Linked DNA regions of Homo sapiens. The protein of the gene in region 2 purifies or fractionates together with the protein of the main gene of each other region. This does not show direct contact. Each region holds a gene or a part of one and is shown on either strand. Other genes may lie near its edges.

Region 1 (3,500 bases), on a different chromosome or scaffold from region 2:
GGGGCACTGAAGATCTGGCACAGAGAAACAAGGGGAGACAGGGCAGTGATAAGATCCAGCCCTATTTTTCTAGCATGCATTTACGACCTTGTGGATATGTCTGTACTGGGTGTTAATAGCCCCCTCCTTGTATTTAAAAAAAAAATTAAGAAATTAAAGTGAATCTGTGTGCTAATGAAGTCTGCAGTTACAGAATCTCAAAGCCAAGCCTGTAAAGTCTGTAAGGCAAGATCTTTGTCATCAGGGACGGGAAGAGACGGATAAGATAATGGTAGGCACTAAAGGCTGGTTCAGCCGAGCTCTGGGCAGAACAGCCTCAAAAATAAGGCAACTGTGGCTTCTCAGTTTGAGACTGCCACCAGAAAGGCCCATGGAAGCAGGAAAAAAGAGCCACTGATGGCAGATCACAGGAAGATATTCGGATAGGGCAATGATCACAGTTAGATGGCAGGACTCAGGGTCTCAGGGAGGCAGGAAACCGTGGAACTGACACTCAAGGGGAATGTCTTTGCAAGTCCTATGCACGACTCCAAGCAGCAATTTCTGGGGTTTGGAGATTTGTTAGTTTTGCGACGTATTCCCCCCAAAAGAAGACATGAAGGTGGGCCCCCTGGAGAGGTGAGACCACCAGGGCAGAACCTCCACCAGGCGTGAAGCTGGATGAGAGGTGGAAAGGACTTCCTGCGGCACCCGGCTCCCTCCACGTCTGGCTGAGTCCTACAAACGCTTGTAGGTGCCCAGGAGAGCTCTGCAGTTGGGACAGTAATGGTCCACGTCCTGCAGGGCATCCACGCAGAAGGGGATGAAGCAGCAGCCCGCTATGCACCTGGGAGGAGAGAGAGACACACGGAGCGCGTTACTGATCACAACAGGGTGAACACTGGCTGCCAAAACCATGTTCATGTCCTTCTTTGTAAAAAGGGTCTTTGCCAGTATAATTAGGAATTTTGAGATGGGATCATCTTGGATTATCCAGGCGGACCCCTAAAACCCAATGACCTTAGAAGAAGAGGAGAGGACACACAGAGATACAGAGAGGGCAGAAGGAAATGTGAAGACAGAGGCAGAAGCTGGAGTGATGAGGCCATAAGCCAAGGACACCTGGACCTACTAGAAGCTGGAGGAGGCAAAAAATGATTCTCCCTGAAGCCTTAGGAGGGAGCGTGGCCCTGCTGACATTTTAGTTTTTGGTTTTGTTTTGTTTTGTTTTTGAGATGGAGTCTCGCTCTGTCGCCCAGGGTTCAAGCAATTCTCCCTCCTCCTGGGTTCAAGCAATTCTCCTGCCTCAGCCTCCTGAGTAGCTGGGATTGCAGGCGCATGCCACCAGGCCCAGCTAATTTTTTTATTATTAGGAGAGTTGGGGTTTCACCGTGTTGGCCAGGCTGGTCTCAAACTCCTGACCTCAAGTGATCCACCCGCCTTGGCCTCCCCAAGTGCTGGGATTACAGGCGAGAGCCACCACACCCGGCCCCTGCTGACATTTTGATTTTGCACTTCTGGCCTCTAGAATTGTGAGAGTTAATATCTGTTGTTTTAAACACTAGGTGTGTTGTAATTTGTGATGACACCCCTAGGAAATTAACATGCCAGCCAATGCCAAGGCTCCTCCTACAGACAGAGCCCCTTTGAGTATTATTTTCAAATCTGGGGTCATTTGGGAGTCTTTCAAAGTCTTAGATGGGCTTGGTGAACTTTTTTTGCAAAGGGACAGATAGTAGATCTTTTAGTCTTTTTGTTGCTGTGTTTTGTTTGTTTTTGTAGAGATGGGGTCTTGCTATGTTGCACAGGCTGGTCTTGAACTGCTGGCCTCAAGTGATCCTTCCACCTCCGCCTCCCAAATTGCTGGGATTACAGGTGGAAGCCACCACACACCCGGCCACATACTTTCATCCTGATGAGCCATGGCGTCTCTGTTGCAACTGCTCAACTCTGCCCTTGGAATGAGAAGACAGCCACAGAGAATCCAAAAACCAACAGGCGTGGCTGTGTTCCCGTAAAACTTAAAACAGGCGCCTGGCTCCAGGGTCGTTTTGCCAACCCCCGTCTTACTGATCTCTTTTCCATATAGACAGGCTGCTTCTTACAGCAACCAAGTAGAGTTCCCCAAATAATGCCTCTTAACCTACATAATCCACCTTTGGCACACACAGGCAGGAACCTCAGACCGCCTGACAACCAATGTTTGCCAAAAATGGAGTTAAAACTCAACCCTTCACAGGAAGACGCTGGTTTACATAAAGCAGAATTTGGAAATATTCTGATGAGGAAATTATCTCATGAAAGAAATTTCCTCCTATTGCCTAAGCTTTCCAGAGCTCAAATAAGGGCAGTCAATCCATTCAGCAGGAATCCTAACCTATGGCTTACAGGTGCAGGCACGGCTCCAGGCAGCACACACACATATTTCATCCTCAGCAGGCCCTGAGGTGGGCGTTATTGCCCCGCACCCCCGTCTACAGATGGGGAAACTGAAGCACAGAGAGGTAAAGTCACTTGCCCATGGCCACACAGCTAGTGAGAGGCAGGATTTGAACCCACTCTACCATGTTTAAGGAAGGAACAAAGGGAGGGAAAGAAAGGTTGCCTCAATTTCTAAAGCCAGACTGGCAGAGGCCAATACTCAATGTAAGTTTCTATTCCTCTATAATCCCAGCACTTTGGGAGGTCAAGGCAGAAGGACTGCTTGAGTCCAGGAGTTCAAGACCAGCCTGGGCAACATAGTAAAACCCCTGCTTCCACACACACAAAAAAAAAATTTAAAAATTAGCTAGGTATGGTGGCACACACCTGTGGTCCCAGGTACTCAGGAGGCTGAGCTGGGCGGATTGCAGGAGCCCAGGAGATCAAAGCTGCGGAGAGCTACGATCGTACCACTGCACTCCTGCCTGGACAACAGAGCAAGACTCAGCCTCAAACAAAACAAAACAAGTTTCTATTCCATCTTTCCCTGATTCCAAAGATAAAAAATTTGTTTTAATACAAATATCCAGAGGCAATGGACTTTTTTTTTTTTTAAGCATTTTCTGCCCACAGAATGAAAACAACAGCAGAGTCCTGTGGGCAAGAGGGGGAATCAGGTGCCCAGAAAGCTGTTTTGTCTCCTTCCTTCCTTATTTAACACATGACCTCAAGGAAGTTAACTAAACTCTCTGGGACTCTGAGCCTCTTATTGAAGTTAGGAAGAGAAATATTGTTCCTTCTCAACCTCAAGTCACCAAAGGACAATGTGGAGGAACGTGCCGGTTGCATGAGGCTCCTGAAACTCACAAACACCGTTTCCTTCAAGGAAAAGAATGGAGCCCCTTGGGGTTTTCTGAGTGGCTCACGTGGCCAGGTATAAGGAAGCTACTTTTACCTGCTTGGTGGGAAACAAAAAATTGATTGTGTTTCCTCAGATTTTTCTCCCAGAACAGAAACTGTTATCTCTTTAAACATAATACCTTTGGTGCAGACATAAAATTTATATAATTTCCCTGCATGGGCAATGGGAAAAATACTTC
Region 2 (3,500 bases):
GGCTGAGGGCCAGAGACCACCCACCCCAGCCTCTGTTCCTCATGTTCTGCTCATAGACGTGGTCAGAAGAAGACACGGGAGCTCAGCCGGCCATTTGCAGCGACAGCCTCACCACTGTGCTGGGTCAGATGCAGCACAGACTGCCAGTTAAATAAAGCGACAGCTAGTTGCCAGCAAAACTGGAAACCCAAGGAAAGCCCCCACTTGCTTGCGGAGCCTAGGTGCCTATTAGATGTCTAATTGCTGAGCTTCTGTTTCAGGAAGTCCGAGGGAAGGAGAGATAACAACTCCCTAAGGATCCCTTGGGGTCTATGGTCCCCAGAGATAGCTGGACTTCAGGTCCCTTCCAGTCCTCGCCTTTTATGATCAAATTAAGGACACGTCCCCAGATGGGTGACTTGTATTCACAGTGCATTACACAGGGAGCTTAGATCACACTCGCCAACAAATAAAAGGTAAAAATCTCAAACATCGTGTTGAGTAAAAACAGCCTGACACAGAAGAGCCCATAAGGTAGAATTCCATATGCATGAAGTTCCAGAACAGGCAAAACCAACCTAGGTGATAGAAATCAGAGCAGTTGACTGAAAGGAATAGTGGGACTTTCTGGGGTGAGGGGATGTTTGCTGTCTTATTGGAGTGGCACTCACACAGGTGTATGCATTTGTCAAAACTCATCCAACTGTATACTTAAAGCATTTTCTTGTGTTTAAAGAGTACCTCAGTATGAAAGAATATTAAGAAAAAAGGGTTGCACATTTGGCTATAATACATCATGGACACTTTTGTGGCATAAATTTAGTGTATTGGTTGATTGGCTTATTTCCCTCTGGACACTAAGAGACCCTAGAGGTGGGCCTCCGAGGTTTCCATCTCTCTTGGTGCACACAGTAGGTGCCCCATAAATGCCTCAGTTGCCATGGCATCAGTGCACAGTTCCTCTGTGAAGCTTTTTTTCAGCTCAAGTATTGAGAAAAATGAGTTGGAAGGAATTGAGCTAGAAAGAGACTTAGAACGCTGATTGCTGTCTCGGGCACCTGTGTGCCATGACGGTGTTTCCTGGGCCACATGTGGGCACCTTTCTGGCCTGATTATGTATACCATGTGTGTTTACACAGAGATGGTCTGGGGTCCGGGGTGGAATGCCCCTGGGTGACTAAGCTGGCACTCCAACTCTGGGTCTCTGTGGTTTCAGGGTATTAGACCATCCAGGTCCCCACCCTGGAGACCCAGGGCCAGGGGCAGTGCTGCCTTGGCTGACAGCGAAGTGCCACTCAGCATATTCTAGATACCCTGTGGATGGACCTGGGCATGTGTAAAGGGGCTGACAAAGAAGACTCGGGCCTGGGGTAGGGGGGTGCCCTATGCACTTTGGAGGGGGTACCTGAATGACCTGGGCCTTTTGCAGTTCCCCTGGCCTGGCACCCAGACACTGATGAACAGTCGATGGGTTGAATAAGCTGCTGCCAAGCCCCCGGCCCCCATCCTTACTGTGGGGAAGGGCTATGAAGAAAAAAGCAGGGCCACCCACCTTTCAGTGAAGAGAGTGGCTACCCCCAGGCCAGTTTGTCCTTGGGAGGTGGGCAAAATTCAGGGCTCAGGCCGAAGAGCCCACTCTTCCTCAGCTCCCACCTCTGGAGGAGGACCCGGTCTCAGGCACCCCCATTTCATTTCATCCCTGCCTGGGGAATCACTTCAGCAGAGCAGCAGAGCTAAAGCGGGTGGGGTTTTCCTGTCAGCTGAATTAGCCTCGGCTTCAGCCTGGGTGTTGGAATAAATGAGATGTAAATGTATGTAAATGAGGGCATTCCCTGGCTTCAGGGTGGGTGTGTTCTCCTCCACCTCCAGGAGGGATGGGGATGATTCTTCAGGACTTAGCAAGATCGCTGGAGGCGGAGATTAAGAGTAGAGAATGACAGGCTCCTCAGACTCTCCCATCTCCCCCAGAACTGGGCTCCAGACTGGACAGGGTTAATGCCTATGCAGCCTCAAAGGAGCGGAGCCTGTGGGGAGCTGGTTAGCTGAGGCCCCGTGCAAGGACGGACCAATGTGCCTTTGATCTGGGAGCAAGGACCTGAAAGCACAGGCCACCAGCACCAGCTGGCACCCCCACTGAGCCTTTGTCCAAGCTGTTAGCCCGGGAGAGCCGAGACTGTGCAGACAATTGCCTGGGCGGGAGGGATGGTCTGAAACTTACTGTCGATCTCTCCCACTTACATCCCCCACCATCCCAACCTGTGGCTTGAGCCTCCACAACCACCCACAGCCACTGCCAGAAACCAGGATGGGCACTTTCTGGTCTGCGGGGGACAATGCTCTTTCAATCCTTCCCTGAGGCCCCCGCCCCCAGCCCCACCCCCAAAGCAGGTAGAAGTCTTCCCCACGCCCACCCTTGCCCGAGACAGAGTGTCGCTCTGTCGCCCAAGCTGGAGTGCAGTGCAGTGGTGCAATCTCCGCTCACTGCAACCTCTGCCTCCCGAGTTCAAGCAATTTTCCTGCCTCAGCCTCCTGGTAGCTGGGATTACAGGTGCCTGCCACCACGCCCAGCTAGCTTTTTGTATGTTTAGTAGAAATGGGGTTTCACCATGTTGGCCAGGCTGGTGTCGAACTCCTGACCTCAGGTGATCCACCTGCCCCGGCCTCCCAAAGTGCTGGGATTACAGGCATGAGCCACTGTGCCCGGCCTCAGGTAGAATTTTTTTAAGGGCTTAGGGCCTGGTGGCTGGAACTTGATGCCAGTGCCATCCAACAGAAATATAATATGAGTCACAAATGCAAGCCACATATGCAATTTTAAATTTTCTAACAGCCACATTTTTTAAACTAAAAAAACGTGAAATTAACTTGAACACATTTTATTTAATCCAGTATACTACTATCAAATATTATCTGTTTAACTTGTAATCAATATTAAAAGTTATTAACGAAATAGTCAACATTCCTTATTGTACTAAGCCTGCAAAATGGATGTGACTTTACAATAGCACAACTCAGTCCACAGTAGCCACATTCCAAGCACTTGGTAGCCACATGCAGTGAATGAGTGGCCACCCTGTTGTTGGACAGTGCTTGAGCTGGAGAGAAAAACTGCTGGGGAATCGCTTCTGCCAGGAAAACTGCTGACTCTTCGGGCATGGGCAGAAATCGGCTAGGTCTCCCTGGGAGCATCTGGGCTGCATAGAGGGAGAACCAGGCTCAGATGAGGCTGACAGGGCTGACTCTTAGCCTTGAAGTGGGGGTCACAGACACAGTCCAGGCAGATGGGCCATAGGCAAGCCATGAGCTTTTATCCCACTCTCTGCACGCAGAGGTAGGAGGCAATGTGGTGCAATGGGTAGGCTCACAGGCCTGGCTTCATACAGACAGGGGCTCACTTCATCTCTCCTACAGTCAGATTTCCCATCTGTAAAGCGAGGCTAATAACCCCCGTCTTCCTAGGATTGTTGCAAGGATGAAGTAAGGTGATCCACGAACTGCACTAAGTGCAGTGCAGGGCACAG
Region 3 (3,500 bases), on a different chromosome or scaffold from region 2:
ATTATACACATACAAGAATATTTAGAATAGTATTGTTAATAAAGAAAAGTTGAAAGCTATGTGAATGTCTATCAATAGAGGAATAAATAAATTACACTCCAATGCCATTCTGGAAAACAGTTCGACAGTTTCTTATAAAACTAAACATGTACCTATCATATGACCCAATAATTGCACTCTTGGGCTTTTATCCCAGAGAAATGAAACCTCGTGTTCACACAAAAACCTGTATATGAAGAGTCATAGCAGCTTTATTCATGATAGCCTCAAAGTGGGTGAAAATGGTTAAATGGTGATACCTTTACACTCTGAAATACAATTCTCAGCAGTTAAAAAAATGAATTTCTAAAAAAAAGCTACTGACACACACAACTTGGATGGATCTTAAAGGAATTATCATGAGCCAAAAAAAAAAAAAAAAAAGCCAATCTCAAAATGTTGCATGCTGTGTGATTCAATTTATTTAACAGTCTTGAAATGACAAAATGATAAAGATGGAGAACAGATTAGTGGTTGCAAAGGGTTAGGGAGGGGGAGTGTGTTTCTTTAAAGGTCTCGCACAAGGGATCCTTGTGGCGATGGAACAGTTCTGTGTCTTGATCGTGGTGTTGTTTACAGGAATCTTTTATTTTATCATGTCATAAAATTGCAAGGAAAACCATTTGGCAGTTTCTTATAAAGTTAAAATATACTTACCAAAGAACCGGCATACATAAATGAGTGAGTATAATACAGAATGAAGTCTGTGAACTATACCAAAGACAATTTCCTGGCTTTGATATTATACTATAGGCATGCAAGATGTTACTACTGGAGAATAAGTGAAGGGTATACAAAACGTTCTGTACTATTTTTTGCAACCTTCTGTGCATTTATAATTTTCTCAAAATTAAAAGTTAAAATATGCAACAGATTGTCATTTCACTATTAAGAATTATGTGTATTCTTTAAAAAAAAAAAAAAAAAGATGTGTATAGCCAGGCACCATGGTTTGCACCTGTAATCCTAAACTAAGGCAGGAGAATCGCTTGAGGCCAGGAGTTCAAGACCAGCCTAGGCAACATAGTGAGACCCTTTCTCTAAAAAATATTTTGAGGCCAGGCGTGGTGGCTCATACCTGTAATCCCAGCACGCTGGGAGGCCTAGGTGGGCAAATCACTTGAGGTCAGGAGTTCAAGACCAGCCTGGGCAACATGGAAAAACCCCATCTCTACTAAAAATATAAAAATTAGCCAGGCGTGTTGGCACACGTGTAATCCTAGCTACTCAGGAGGCTGAGGCAAGAGGACTGCTTGAGTCCAGGAGTTCAATGCTTCAGTGAGCTATGATGGCACCTCTGCACTCCAGCCAGGATGACAGAGTGAGACTCTTCTCCAAAAACAAAAAACAAAAAACAGGCTGGGCGCAGTGGCTCACGCCTGTAATCCCAGCACTCTGGGAGGCCGAGGCAGGCGCGGATCACAAGGTCAGGAGATTGAGACCATCCTGGTCAACATGATGAAACCGCGTCTCTACTAAAAATACAAAAAAATTAGCTGGGTTTGGTGGCAGGCGCCTGTAATCCCAGCTACTCAGGAGGCTGAGGCAGGAGAATCGCTTGAACCCAGTAGGCGGAGGTTGCAGTGAGCCGAGATCGCGCCACTGCACTCCAGCCTGGCCACAGAGCGAGACTCCGTCTCAAAAAAAACAAAACCAAAAACAAACAAAAAACAAAGCCATGTAAAAGAAGAGCACAGCATATCACTGAGTGGAAAGGACAGGTTGAAAATAACACACATAATCTCATTTATGAAAAATTATGTTTGTATGCATGCTGAAGCATATTGGGAGCTCTAGAAGGGTGGCCACCAAAATGTTAATAATGCTTTTTTGAGGGGAGAGGTGTTTTCAAAACTTCCTTTTATATTTTCTGTATTGTTTAAATTTTCTACAACAAACATATTACCTTCATGACAACAACAAAAAAAACACAAATATTTTAATAGGATTTTTAAATGCTCCAAATGACTATCAATATGGAAGAAATAATAGTGGCATATTGCTCATGAAAGACAGAAAGCACATTGCAAAACAACCTAATCCCATTCTTGAAAAAAAATCCATATATTTTATTACATGCAAAATCTGGACAGGCCAGGTGCAGTGGCTCACACCTGTAATCCCAGCACTTTGGGAGGCCAAGGCAGGAGGATCACTTGAGCCCAGGAGATGGAGACCACCCTGGGCAACACAGCAAGACCCCCATCTCTACAAAATATTAGCTGGGCATGGTGGCGCACACCTGTAGTCCCAGCTACTTGGGAGGCTGAGGTGGGAGGATCACTTGAGCCCGGGAGGTTGAGGCTGCAGTGAGCTATGATTGTGCCACTGCACTCCAGCCTGGGTGACAGATCAAAACCCTGTCTCAAAAACAAAAAACAGAAACCAAATAAGAAAACACTGGAGTGGGGAAGGTTTTTCTAGCTATGACTCAAAATCCAGAAGCCAAAAGAGAAAATACAGATACATTTTATTACATAAAAATTATTTAAAAAGACACTTCTACCTGGCCAAAAGAAGGCCATATGTAATGTTAAAAGACAAGTGACAAATTAGGAAAAATATTTGCATGTAATAGTTTTATATATGTACAATAGACAAGAGCTGATTTTCCCATTATGTAAAAGTTTCTAGAAATTGATAAGGAAAAGTCTAACCCAATATAAAAATGGGCAAATGGCGGGGCGTGGTAGCTCATACCTGTAATCTCAGCGCTTTGGTAGGCTGAGGCAGGAGGATCATTTGAGCTCAGGAATTCGAGACCAGCCTAAGCAACATAGCAAGATCTTGTCTCTACTAAAAATCAGAAACATTAGCTGAGCATGGTGCCATGCACCCAGTAGTTTCAGCTGCTTGGGATGCTGAGGTGAGAGGATCACGTGAGCCCAGGAGTTTGAGGCTGCAGTGAGCTATGATGGTGGCACTGCACTCCAGCTTGTGTGACAGAATGAGACCCTGTATCAAAAATAAATAAATAGAGCCAGACACGGTGGCTCACACCTGTAATCCCAGCACTTTGGGAGGCCGAGGCAGGAGGCTCACCTGAGGTCAGGAGTTCAAGACCAGCCTGGCCAACAAGGTGAAACTCTGTCTCTACTAAAAATACAAAAATTAGTCAGGCGCAGTGGAGCGTGCCTGTAATCCCAGCTACTCGGGAGGCTGAGCCAGGAGAATCGTTTGAACCCGGGAGGCAGAGGTTGCAGTTAGCAGAGATCACATCACTGCACTCCAGCCTGGGTGACAGAGCAAGACTCTGTCTCAAAAAATAAAAATAAATAAATGGTGAACTTGCACATGTGAGAAATAATATAAGCACAGCTACATTGTTTGTAAGAGCAAATAACTAGAACCAGCACAAATATCTATGAACACGGGACTAATTAAATAAACTGTAACTTATTCCTACAACATTAGAATATGCAGATGAAAAAGTGGAAGCTCTGCTCTTATTGACATGGAAA

Evidence for each region. Proteins that work in one complex are often made in the same cells at the same time.
Region 1: the proteins of SCN5A (region 2) and LITAF purify together in Homo sapiens (affinity purification with western blotting, with the first as the bait; one study listed by BioGRID). This does not show direct contact.
Region 3: the proteins of SCN5A (region 2) and ADGRG5 purify together in Homo sapiens (co-immunoprecipitation; one large-scale study listed by IntAct). This does not show direct contact.

What each region holds. Positions count from the first base shown.
Region 1 is NC_000016.10:11,548,920-11,552,419, forward strand, and holds part of LITAF (lipopolysaccharide-induced tumor necrosis factor-alpha factor), read right to left. Parts: intron 2,886-3,500; coding exon of another isoform or gene 2,804-2,885; exon of another isoform or gene 2,788-2,803; intron 827-2,787; coding exon 718-826; 3' UTR 1-717.
Region 2 is NC_000003.12:38,639,688-38,643,187, reverse strand, and holds part of SCN5A (sodium channel protein type 5 subunit alpha), read left to right. Parts: intron 1-3,500. UniProt on the Homo sapiens protein: Pore-forming subunit of Nav1.5, a voltage-gated sodium (Nav) channel that directly mediates the depolarizing phase of action potentials in excitable membranes.
Region 3 is NC_000016.10:57,545,643-57,549,142, reverse strand, and holds part of ADGRG5 (adhesion G-protein coupled receptor G5 isoform 1 precursor), read right to left. Parts: intron 1-3,500. UniProt on the Homo sapiens protein: Orphan adhesion G-protein coupled receptor (aGPCR). Ligand binding causes a conformation change that triggers signaling via guanine nucleotide-binding proteins (G proteins) and modulates the activity of downstream effectors, such as adenylate cyclase.